Homo sapiens: one gene and its partner. The protein of the gene in region 2 interacts with the protein of the main gene of each other region in a biochemical or structural test. Each region holds a gene or a part of one and is shown on either strand. Other genes may lie near its edges.

The links.
Region 1: the proteins of MXD4 (region 2) and SMC3 form a complex in vitro, tested with the Homo sapiens proteins (one study listed by BioGRID).

What each region holds. Positions count from the first base shown.
Region 1 is NC_000010.11:110,570,518-110,577,803, reverse strand, and holds part of SMC3 (structural maintenance of chromosomes protein 3), read right to left. Parts: intron 4,098-7,286; coding exon 4,059-4,097; intron 2,469-4,058; coding exon 2,401-2,468; intron 1,445-2,400; exon of another isoform or gene 1,343-1,444; intron 384-1,342; coding exon 312-383; intron 1-311. UniProt on the Homo sapiens protein: Central component of cohesin, a complex required for chromosome cohesion during the cell cycle. The cohesin complex may form a large proteinaceous ring within which sister chromatids can be trapped.
Region 2 is NC_000004.12:2,246,930-2,252,393, forward strand, and holds the end of MXD4 (max dimerization protein 4), read right to left. Parts: intron 4,318-5,464; coding exon 4,155-4,317; intron 3,773-4,154; coding exon 3,615-3,772; 3' UTR 503-3,614; downstream 1-502. UniProt on the Homo sapiens protein: Transcriptional repressor. Binds with MAX to form a sequence-specific DNA-binding protein complex which recognizes the core sequence 5'-CAC[GA]TG-3'.

The DNA of each region.
Region 1 (7,286 bases), on a different chromosome or scaffold from region 2:
TTAATAGTAAAGGAGAAAACTTTTTAAATAAGGTCATTTTAAAGTCCTTGCCCATAAGTATTTATTTTAAAATTTCAATTATCTCACTAAAAATAATACTACAAATACTCAATACTCTTAACCAAGACACTTTTCACAACAGTTTGTACATTCCCATTTGTTAACAGAGTATTCATTGTCATTTTAAGATAAAATCAGTATATAAACTGTAATTATAACAAATTATAAAAGCTTAAAAAGTTTCAAAGTATGAAGAAAATCAGCTAAACCAATTAAATTCTCAACATTACTTTAAAAAAAAAGTTACTTACTGGTAACCGGTTGTCTGAATTATCAAAAATAATCTCCACAAAAGCAGAAATAACACGAGGACCAGTACCTTCCTAAAAATGAAAGAAGTGAGAAATTTGCCATTTAAGTTGTATATTCATATCCTTTAAAGGATTCTTAAAGTCTAGGGCATAATAACAAGTCTGATTCAATGGAGAAAAATTTCTGCTAGATTCATATATACACACACACACTAATCTAACGTCTCTGCTCTTTTGGCAAGAGGGATACATACTTTGGGGATATCCCCAGAGTTATAGTATATATCCCTCTTGCCAAAACAGCAGAGACGTTAGATTAGGACAACAAAACTTCTCAACCAAATAGCTTTTGATTCTAAATAAAAAATAAGAGCTATGCAAGACATGTCAAAGTTAGATATCCTTAAATATGATTCTACAGACCACTTTATTAGACTGCAAGACTGGGGACATTTAACTCTACCTATTTGCTAATATCTAATACACCATGAGGCTTTTCTCTTACAGTCTCATTTTAATGCTGCAAAGAAATCCTAATAAATCATGGGATAATTACCAAAAGTCTGTTTTTTAAGAAAAATTGAGACATTCTACAGTTTTAAATCTATTATAGAAATATACACATTTAACATGTGTCACATTTAAACCAATCTATGACACAAAAACTATGGTACCAAGTCCAGATACCTTCCAGATTATAGAAACTATGTAGTAAATACAATGAAGAACTGTACCAAAGAGGTTATTAATTATTTTAATGCCAATCTGAAAAACCTAAAAAGAATTTTTCTAAAGGAAATCAATTCTGATTACTGGGCTACAAATTCAAACTAAACAAGGGGAAAAGACAGACAAGAGCTAAACAAAACAATTTCCTATGTGTGAGAAACACTGTTAAGACATGTTGAGGAATTTCATTTTCTAGTCTTTAATAAACAATATTCAAATCAGAAGGATTAATCGTTTTATTGTAGTCTTTCATGATTTTCTATCCTAAAATTACTTTAGTCCATTACTCATATTTTTTTCCACATCACATTGGTAATGTGCCAATGTCCTAACAAGGTTTGAGGGAGGCATGACTCACATGAACACGAAAACCCAATCATCGTGCTTATGCATTACAAAAGGACCCACTTAATAAAATATCCTAACTCACATTACTGTAAATATACAGGTGGTCCCCAACTTACGATGGTTCAACAAATGGCTGAATGACAACGTGATAGCAGTCTACATTCAGTAGAAACCATAATTTGAGTATCCATAAAATCACTGTTTTTTACTTTCAGCATAGTATTCAATAAATTATATGACAGATTCAACACTTTATTATAAAACAGACTTTTGTGTTAGATCATTTTGCTCAACTGTAGGCTAATGTCCATTTTTGACTTATGGTATTTTCAGTTTATGATAGGTTTATTAGGACATAACCCCGCTGTAAGTTGCAGAACATCTCTACTGTTTTTCATACTGGAAAATGATGTTTACTATCTAAGTACAAATATGGCTAAAACAACAAACAACTTGTATGTTGTTTAGTTTGCAATGGTTGTTTCTCTATGTTCCCAATTAATTTTTGGTTCTGCATCTTAAAGTTCCTAATCTGCAACCTCAAACTCTTCTTTCTCCTCAGCAAACCTGCTTCTTAAGCCTTTGCAGATCACATCCTTAAAGAAATGTACATGGAGGACATACCCACCTATAGGCAAATCCTATAATTTTCTCCTAACCATCACATAAAAATTAGGCCTTTATCTGGCATTAACATGTTAGGCTAAATTTCACAGCAGAATAAAACACTTATGATATATATCATGTCTCCTTTAAGACATTTATATGGAGGACATATCCATCTATAGGCAAATCCTATAATTTTCTCCTAAACCACTGTATAAAAATTGGGCTTTTATCTGGCATTAATATGTTAGGCTAAATTTCACAGCAGAGTAACACACTTATGAGAAAGATTGTGTCTTGTTCACAAAGAATCTGAAACTTGAACAAATGCTTTTTTAACCAGCATGGAAAATTTATTTTTAAAATATATGTAATATCAATAATGTCTTAAAGCAGTCTCACTCACATGCAATAAAGCCAACCGCTGTTCTGGACGAAGATGACTAAACTCATCACTGAGAACAAACTGAATTGCTGGAAATACAAAAACAACTATTAGTATACCCTAAAAAAGTGTTTATAACTTATTTATAACTTCCCACACCTCAATAGAACATAGTGTGTCTGGTAATAGACAATGCAAATAAATTATCTGTTTCATATGGACAAAAGGAAATGCAGAAAATGTGCCTGCACATCAGACTAATCAGGTAGGAAATGATATAAGAAAAATACTGAGAAGTTTTCATTGAAACATTTAAGGTAAGGAAATAAAGAGAAACCACCGAAATACATGAAAACAGACAAGCAAAACTAAGGTATACCTCTGGCTCAAAGTGTTCACTGACTGGATTAGGTTAACACTGTATTTGCTTTTTTCCCCACTAGACATAAATGATATGAGTTAAAATCCTTTTTAACAAAATAGGATGTATTTTGAGAATATGCTTAAGTGGATACTTTACCAAAAGAAATAAAACTAAGGAAATACAGGGAAATGTTTGAGATGCCCAACTTATACTACACTTCTTATACTATACCGAGCTCTGTAAGAAGGGGCCGTTCCTACTTCGGTATAGAGTACCTAACTGGACCACCCTGCCTAGGAAGTGGAACTCTTTACTCAGCTGTTCTTGTCCCAGTCCACCCAAGAGACCTCTGGCACTGTGTGTGTGTGGAGGTGGTGGGGGTGCCCACATCAGCAAGTACGTGCATAAGCATTAATGTGTGTGCTGTGGACACAGGTCGAGGTGAGGAGACTTCACACTGCCCTGGAGATTCTGAAATACTTCCACTTCAGTCCATTCTCTCATCATTGCCAAATTACAACCACAATAGGATATACAGGCTAGAGAGTGCCTTTCAGATTCGTGTGCACAGAAGAGATAGAACCTTTGTTCTTACTAAGCCAGTCCACTAAATGCCCCTTTCCCTCAAGCATTACCCAACTAAAAAGTTCAAATTTTTCAACCTACTCCTTAACTGTCTAATTTTGTTAAAATGTTTTTCTCCTCAAAGGATTTGTTAACAGACGCATTGCTATTTACACTTAAATGCAATTTAGAGAGAATTTTTGAAGCTCTATTTACTATCTTCAAAGTGACAACAGTCTGTTCAGTTTCAAGTTTTTTATACCTCTTCATCCTTTACAAAGATGATTGGTTTAGAAAACGTTTTCAAAAAGGTGAAATAAGAAAGATGAACAATTTTCCAAAACAATACTATCAACTATTCTACTGCATTTACATACGTTTAAAATATGCATTTATAACATTTATATATTACATTCAAGTTTAAAAAGCATTTTCATACATACTATTGCATTCCATTCTTACAAACCATCTAAGGTAGACAGGGCAAACATCCAAACATCTCCATTTTTAAAGTGAAAAGAAAAATTTGAGAGGCTACGTGTTTTGCCCACTCTCACACAGCTAATCAGCCACTGGGTATAAAGCAGAATTCAGATCTGTATACTCTAAACCCTCTACACTAAGCTGCAACCCCATATAAAGTATTTCTTGGGTTTCATGAATACATAACCTCAGAAAATTAATGATTTTAATAATCTACCCTAAGATACCCAGGTCTTAATATATTTACAATTCAAAAAGCAACACCTACCATAAAAAAAGTTACTTTTTCCAGATCCATTTCTGCCCACTGGAAAATTTCAAAAAGTACAAGTTATTTTACATAAAAACCAATAAAATTAAAACTGTTTACCTTTTTAAAAATACTCAATATTTTTAAAATCCAATTTTCTAATACATCTTAACATCTGAAATTAAACAGTGAACAAAAGAAACCAATAAAACAACTATAATCACCAAATAAATTCAATTTTTGTACAGACTTCTAATAGTTTTTTCTTTAAAGATATTTCACAGTTGATCCGTTTGCTCTTACCCAATAGTTTAAAATGAATAGGAATAGCTAAATATACTACCTGGCTCTTATATCATATTACAATGGATATATAATTCTATTTTAACTATATATGTTTAACAATTTAAAGATTCATATATTGCTAACGTTCTAAAATAATCATTTTAAATCCTTAAAGTGTTCTCATGTTTAAAATCAACCCTATATTATCATGTGTAGTCTCACAGAACCACAAAAATATAAATAATTTTAAGGTACTTTTTGACTAACAAAATTCAAATATAAGCAATTCAATACGTAAAAGGGTATCAAATCCTTTTAAGTGTGTTTAGTGAAATTTTCAGTGTTAAGACTCATAAATAACTATGTCAGTCTTCTCACTCTTGAGCCAGAAATATCCTGAGCAAATTAACCACAAAGTTACCACCTTTAATGCAAAGTAAATCTCAAAAAGATCATTCATGTCATGCCAGAAAGGATGTACTTTTTAAAAAAACGCATATGACAGACACAGGAGCCAGCTTGAAGGGGCCTTTCAGTAGCTAAAACTAGGGGTAATCTGAGCATCAAAATGGCCAAATAAATTATAAATTATTGGTGGGGGGAATAATCCATGCATCCATACCAATAATAAAAAGATAAATAAGTAGGTAAGGAAGGAGGAGAATTACCAAATGCCAAGTTGTAAATGTGAAAGGAGTGCTGGAAATGAAAAATCATTTTGTGACCGTCAGAATAAAGGCAAGGGTCATCAACAGATGGTAAATGCAGGCACAAAGTTTGAAAAGGAGCACAAGATTTACATGGTCCAAAAGCATCTGCCTATATTACTTATTAGCTGCAAGGGAAAAAATAATACCTACACAGTGGAAACATTAGACCTTGACTGGGTGATCAAAAGTAATATCATCAATAAGAGTCAGACAGACCTCATGTGCCTCCAGATGTGATATCCTGAGAGGGACACAACATCACTTATGTCTTAATTCTCAAAAATAACAATGTTATAAAAGACAAAGGAAGGCTGTGGAAATGATCCAGATTAAAGGAGACTAAAGAAGCATGACAACTATGCAATACCTGCTCCTAAATTAGATCCTGTACTGGAGGGGGAAAAATGCTATCAAGAACACTTCTGGGTCAGTCAACATAACTGGAAAATGGACAGATTACTATGTATTAAATTTACTTAAGTTGTAAATTGTACTGTGATTATGAAAGAGAACATCCCTCCTCTTAGAAAGTACACATTAAAGTCAGAGGTAAAGGACCATGGTGTAAATAACTTTAAGGAAAAAGGTGTGTAAAAAGTGGAAATGATACAGCAAGTGGGGAAAATGTTAACAACAGGTGAATCTAGGTAAAGGGTTTATGAGTAGTCTCTGAACAGTTCTTATTGGGGAAATTTTTCTGTAAATTTGAAACTATTTCTAAATAAAAGTTTAAGATGACAATTTATCATTAAATGAATAAATATTTCAAACCACAATCCATCTATAAATAACTGAAATTTTAAGAATTTCCTTTTAAGAATTACTGCTAGAGTGGAACACTATATAGCAATTTTAAAGGATGCTGAATATTTAATAAAGATATTTCAAGATTTATCCTGAAGGAGAATAACAGATTACCAGTAAGTTATATGATGAACCCATTTTTTATTTAAAAATGAACCCATTTTTATTTAAAAATGAACCCATTTTTATTTAAATATATATTAAAAAGATGTATACAAAGACTAAAAACGTACTGAGGTAAACACAGTTTATATGTGGCCCCAGATTCACCTTTCTCAACCCAGGCCTTGGCTGCCAATCAATGGAAAAGCTCAGTCTCCTAATACCTCTGGTAGATTCAAGCTACCTTGGGAGTACATTCAGGTACTCCTGAATTGTGAACATGGAAAGGAGGCTATAACTCCCTGACTACTTCCGGGTGTTAGTTCCCAGAGCACCACAATCCAAAAGCTTGGAGGCATCAATGCCAGATGTAGAAAACTTTGACCAATGAAAGACAGGTGCCTGCAAACAAATCCTTGTCAGAATCCAAATCCATTCCTCTATCATCTGACCTTTCTAAGGTATGGTGGGTCCACAAAGTCTGTGAGTTATTTAACATGACTGCAAACCACCTGTCTCTTCTTTAGAAATCTATGACCAGCTTTTCTCTTCATTCTTGCCCTCAAACTGCACCTCCCATCAAAGCCTTAGCAGCTAATCCTGTCTGTGCTGTTTTCTAGGAAACCAGGACTAATCACAAGTATAGACTGTTATTATTAAGAATGGTTATCTCTGAAGAATCATGGTGTGCAGTAAAAAACAAAGAATGGTTATCTCTGAGTAAAAGGATTATAGTTTATCTTAATTTTCTTCCTTTTAGCTTTTCCATAATGTTCTATAACATGTATTTCTTTTGTTAAAGGTTAGGGGGAAAAAAATCCCTAAAAACGTATATGTTTGATGCATATACCCAACATCAGTACAAGAGATATTTTTTAATAGTCAACATCATTCATCAATCAAAGTGGTATGCTTTCACCAGATATTTTTAAGGCAAATCTCAGTACCTAACTACTTTTGGTCTTTCTTACATTATGTCTTACAACGTGTCTGGTTTTAAAATATGTTTAATCAGTACTGTTATCTTGGGTTCATTTGTTTTAGTTAAACAAAACCATTTTCCTTTGTAACAGTGACTATTAACAAATCTAATGCTGCAATCACAGAGGTAACACAACTAACTGATAACAGCTAAAACAATGGTATTTGATGGACCTTATAGACAAAATGTAATCATTCTAGCTAGTAAGTTACAGATCATTTATAAAATCACACAAATGAAATATTAAGGTACTTATTTTAAGGTGCAAGTTAAAGAAAACAGAAATCTAATAATTCTTATTTTTCTACATTTCTAAAGATTTTCTGATTGATGAAAAAAATCAGAAAGTACTTATATGTAAGC
Region 2 (5,464 bases):
AGGAAGCAGAAGCCGTGCCCAGGTAGTTCTGGGAACAGGTACAGAGCGATTCTCACAGTGCAGCTCTGAGAGCCAGCAGCCTCTGTGCAGAGGGCTCCTGGCTGGCACGGAGCACCCCAGGGAGCGGGCTGTCCTCGGCCAGCAGGGCCCCAGCACAAGGGCCAGAGGCAAAGTCCCAGTGCCTCTGGGACAAGAGCAACAAGAGCATCCAGTTGGCCAACAGGCCCATGGGGGCGCCCACCTCAACCCCACCTTCACCCAGCTCCAGGCGCCACAGCATCCAGGGAGGCAGCTGTGACGGCGGGCCCGGTGTGGTTGGCGGCACGGGGTGCCGTGCTCCGTCAGGCCTCCCAGGAAAGAGGCTGTGGTAGGGCAACGAGGGCCACGGCCCGAAGGCCACATGGCGTGGTGCCATTGGGCCAGGCTTTCTGCTTGGAGGCCGAGGGCAGGGCGCGAAGCACGCTGACAGTGACAACCACAGAAAGAGCCGGAGCCAGCAGGGTGAGATATAAAAATCTGTATTTATATTACAATGACATAAGGACACAGCACGGCCCACACGGTGGACAGGTGGCCGGGGGCCCCTTTCCCCCTCTAGCGCACGCCCCCCTCACCGGCACCAGGCCCTCGTGTGGCCCCCGACTCTGGCACGGAACCTGCCCTAGTGCCCAACATGGACCTGGGGCCACCCTGCTGGCCGAGGGTCAGGGTCCTCTGTGCAGGCAGTGGGGAGGGGGTCCCAGGTTCCCTGACAGAGGGAGGCAGGGCACGGGGGAGCCTGCCTCACCCAGCGGACAGCACGGGCCGGGGCAGACAGAGCAGGGACCCTAGGGCCACAGACCGGTACAGGGTTCCACCACCCGGGGACACAGGCCCAAGCACCGTGCCACTAAGATGGGGTCTGCAGAGGCAAAGCCTTGCTGCAGCCTCTCCCACTCTGCGAGGATGGCGGGGGTCTGCTATGTGGTTTGCGGGGGTTATCCTGGTATGCGGGAGCTGCCTTCCAATAAGGCTGGGGAACCCAAGCCTGAGTCTGGGTGCTCAGTGGCCGAGAGCACTGGTGTGGGCTGGGAGGGCACACGCAGAGGCTCAGGAGCCCCGGGCTCTGTTCTGCTTCTGTCTGCTCTCTATAGACACGGTGATGGCCTCTTGGTCCCTGCAGCCTCCAGTGATGGCAGCCTGGGCCCCTGACAGGGAGCAGTGGGAGGTTGGAGCATGTGGTGACTCCTAGCACGGGCCCCCACCCAGTGGGCAACCCCTCACCCACCTGCTGATGGCAGGGAGGGGCAGCTGAACAGCACCCCGGGTGGCTGAGACTGCCTCCCAGTCCACGTGGGAACCACGGCCTCAAGAGCCACAGGCTGAGCTGCCGGGAGGGTGGGCTGAGGGGCCACCACTGGTCACCGGGTGGATTCTGCTGGTCAGAGATGAGAGCAGAAGCCCCTAGCTGCCTCAGGCACTGGAGGGTGGGGCAGGGAGCTGGTGCTTCAAGAATTGAGGGCAGGGACACGACCACCTCAGGGCCCTGCAGTGCTGGCTGGGGAAGCAAGCTTTTACACACGGCCCGCCTTGCTCGGAGGTGCCACGGTGTTTGAAATGAAGCCTGGGGGGACAGACTCAGGCAGGCAGGGGAAGCTCCTTTCTGGGCACCCCTGGACCCCAGTGGGGCCGGAAGGAGATGCAGACAGGCCTCCTCACAACCACCCGCAACGCGTTCGGATGCCCCTCAGCTCCAGGCACCATGCCCCCTACAGCCTGCAGGGCAGGTTCTGTGCCAGAGTTGTTTCCAGGGACCCCCTTCCGCCACAGTGGGCCCCCCATCCTGGGGCGTCTATGCGTACGACTGAAAATAGACACGAATTTTCCCCATGATATGGGAATTGGCTACAGATGTACCAGAGGCACGGCAGGCACTGCTATGGGCCAGCCCCAAGGACAGAGGACGTCAGGAAGGAAAGGCGGGTGCAAGCCTCCTGGTGCCAGGCCTGCACCACCCAGCGAGCACAGTCTTCATTGGCTGCCAGTGTCTGAAACCTGGAACCCTCGCCTAGGCCAGGAAGCAGGGGGCTCGAGTCAGGTGACAGGTGAGAATCCATCTCTCTAGTGAGCAAGCAGGCCCCTGCCAGCCACTGGGGAGGGCAACACTGGGGACCAGGTCACAGCCCCTCCGTGCCACCCACAGGGGCCTGGCTGCATCGCCTCCAGGAAGCCCTGGCTGCCGGGAGGGGCTGCCCACAGGAGATGGGAGGACAGCACTAGCTGGGCAGGCCTGGGGCACCCTGAGCCACGAGGGACATGCTGGTGGGAAGGGCAAGGCCTGACACAAGACACAAGGCACACTTTGACGACGTGACGGAGGGACAGGTCCCTGAGACGCTGGGTGGCTCCCACCCCTCAGCAAACAAGGACGCAACAACAGCTAGGAAAATAGAATACAAAAATCTGGTACAGGAAACAGAGGCGGCACACACGGACGTCCCTAGGCCGAGAGTCTTTAGGCTTTCTTCTTTTTAAAAATGGTTTTTTTTTTTTTTCTGGGAAAGCCTCTCTGCCAGCTGAAGCTGCCGCAGCAGAGCTCATGAGAAGCCCTTTCCTAAGGTGGCTCCAGGAGCCCTAACCGGGCTGCTGGGCAGTGCAGCATTTTACTTTTTTGCTTTTTGTTTAAAAAAGGGAGATGAGTAAGCCCCCGAGGACCCAGCGGCTGCAACTTAACCAGCCTCCAGTTCACCCCAGCCCCAGCCAGGAAGAGAAGCCCCTCTCCTGTGCAGACAGGCAGGACTACTGGGTGGGCGTGGGTGAGCAGGAGCTAGAGGGGGATCCAGGCACAGCCCAGGGGCTGTTTGCCAGATGACCCCTGAAGGCCATCATCCCCAGAACATGTGACCTCGGGACGCCCAGGTGTGTCTGCATGTGTGAGCATGTACATGAGTGGGTGTGTCTAGGTGCGTGCGCGTGTGCGTCTGACAGTCCTACCAGAGCAGACGCTGCCCAGCTCGGCGTGGGCTGGGCTGGCCTGCCTGGCCCCGAGAGCCCAGCCCTAGGTTCTGACACCTGCGAAGTGGGAAGGACCTTAACCACCCACCTGCCCCAGGTGCTCACCCAGTTCCCGCCCTTCACAGACCCCTTGTCCACGCCAGGAGCCTATGTGGACTGACAGGTAGGTGGACAGACGGACGGATGGACAGACAGCCTTGCCTTCCTTCCTTCCTCGGTCCACTCCTTTCTCCTGGGATCCAGGGTTGGGGTCTGAGCTCCCTGTGGTGGTCATTAAGCCCCTCACACGGCACCTGCCGAGGTTTGCAGCAATGACGTTTAATACTTCTGGAATGATTAGGAATCTGAGAACAGACCGTGGGCGGCTATGCTGACCAGGGCTCCGGATGTGGAAGCTGGGCCCTGCCTCCTTGCAGGGGACTCTGCCCAGCTGGAAGGGGCAGGCAGCTCGGCAGGCCCTGACCGGCAAGCGGGCAGTGCCAGGCAGCCCAGCAGCAGCTGGAGCTTCCAGAATGGCACAGCAGTGGGCCTGTGGAGAGGCTGGCGTCAACTGAAGGAGAACTGGAGGGCTGACACGCGTGGCTGGCGGGCAGGCAGGCCAAGGAGCAGAGGGCACGGGCCTACGAGAGGGCGGGGCGGCCCAGCCGCCGGCAGTGGGGCCCGAAGCCACTGTCGCCGCCGGTGCCACTCTGCAGGCTGTAGTGGTCGTCCGCGTCACTGCTGCTGCCAACACTGTCCAGCTCACCAGGGCCAAACTCCATGCCCTCTATGTCCACTTCTAGGGAGAATAGAGTGGGGATGGGGTCAGGCCACTCTGAGGGTGCCAGCCCATTTCTCCCTTTTCTGGAAGCAGAAGCTCTAGGCAGAGGGGCAGAAGTGCGGAGGGCGCTGTCTGGGCCCTGGGGCAGCAGACGCCAGGAGGGCTCTGGCTGAGAACCCGGCCTCAGAAGCACCAGTCCTCAGCGGGCCACACAGCCTCTGCATCCCACCCTCCCTGTCCAGTCCCTTCTGCGCTTAGTGACAAACACACACCCCAGTGCAGCAGGGAGCTGGGAGGGTTCTCCCCAGCCCCAGCACCAGGCACCTCCTCTCCACCCAGGGAGCTGCACCACTGCGCACCCGGAGGCCCAGGTGAGGCTGCCCCGCGCCCCACGCCCCACCTTGCTCTGAGTCGTCCGTGGAGACAGCAGAGCCCGTGCTATCTGTGCGCACGCGCTCCACGCTCTGCACCGACAGCTGCTCCAGGCGCCGCTTCAGGAAACGATGCTCCTGCTGCAGCTGCTCCTTGATGCTCAGTGCCCGGCGGTCCTGCTCCTCCAGTTTCTGGGGTCGAGGGGGGCTGTGAGCTCACAGCGGGAAGAGGAGTCCCCCCATCCCCCTGGCCAGGCACTGGGGCACCCAGGCCTGGGCCCGGGAGGTTCCCCATCCCTGCCAAGACCTAGCCAAGGCTACAGGCCACAGGGTGCCCAGTCTCTGCCAGCCCCACAGCCTGAGGTGGGTCCCTCCCTGCCCCAGCCAGGCGGTCACAGTCAGATGCCACCTCCCAGCCCTGTGGTTTCTGTCTACGGCCCAGCTCTAATACCCGCAGCCACCAGGCAGCCTTGGCCAAGTTGAGCCATGTGTGGCAGCGGGTCAGTGCTACCCAATCTTTGGCTGGCACCGTCTCCAGGACAGTCCTGCTTACAGCGGGTCTCCTCACACACTCCCAGCCCTGCCCGCCCCCATCGGGCTGTGGCCTATGCCATGCCTGTCCCTGCAACACCTGTGCCCTGCCCTCTCTAAACCTTCCTGTGGGCCCCACTGAGACACTGCTTGCTCTGTGAGGGCCCCCAGGGCTCTGGTTGTGCCCCTCTCAAAGCTCCTGACACCCCAGCCTGAAGGTGACCATGCCTATGCAGGCAGAAGAGGCCCTCAGAGCAGATAGAGATTTGCCCTGGTTGGTCCAAATGTCACAAGGCCCCCAAACCAACAGGGCTGTCAAAAGTCCTTTGGGGGGCGGTCCCAGGGAATGTCTCCCTGAGCCCAGACCCACTGCCAGCTCCCGCTGCCCCAACCCCACCCTGGCACCCCCATCAGGCTGCCTACTTTTAGTCTGCCTTCTGATGGCACCCAGGAAACCCTGGCCCCCTCTCTCCTTCCAGCAGCTGCCTCTTCACAGCCCAGGACCCCAGAGAGCAATCTGTCCCCCGACCTCCTCCTCTCCATCCCAGTCTATGCTGCGATGCGGCTTCTTATGCCATCAGCACCCAACAAACCCGACACAAGCCACGGAACAGCCTCGACCCCTTGGCAGCTCCTGTTGCTGCTCCTCCACCCTGGCAAAACCCACCAGGCCCCCGACACACACCCGCCAGATGGCTCCCCACCCATCTTCAGGCCCTCTGATCCAAGGGCTGCCCAGGGTCACCTGTGAGCACCCCCCCAGGGCGTGCAGGGACACTGAGGCAGCCAGACAGGGCAGGGTGGAGAG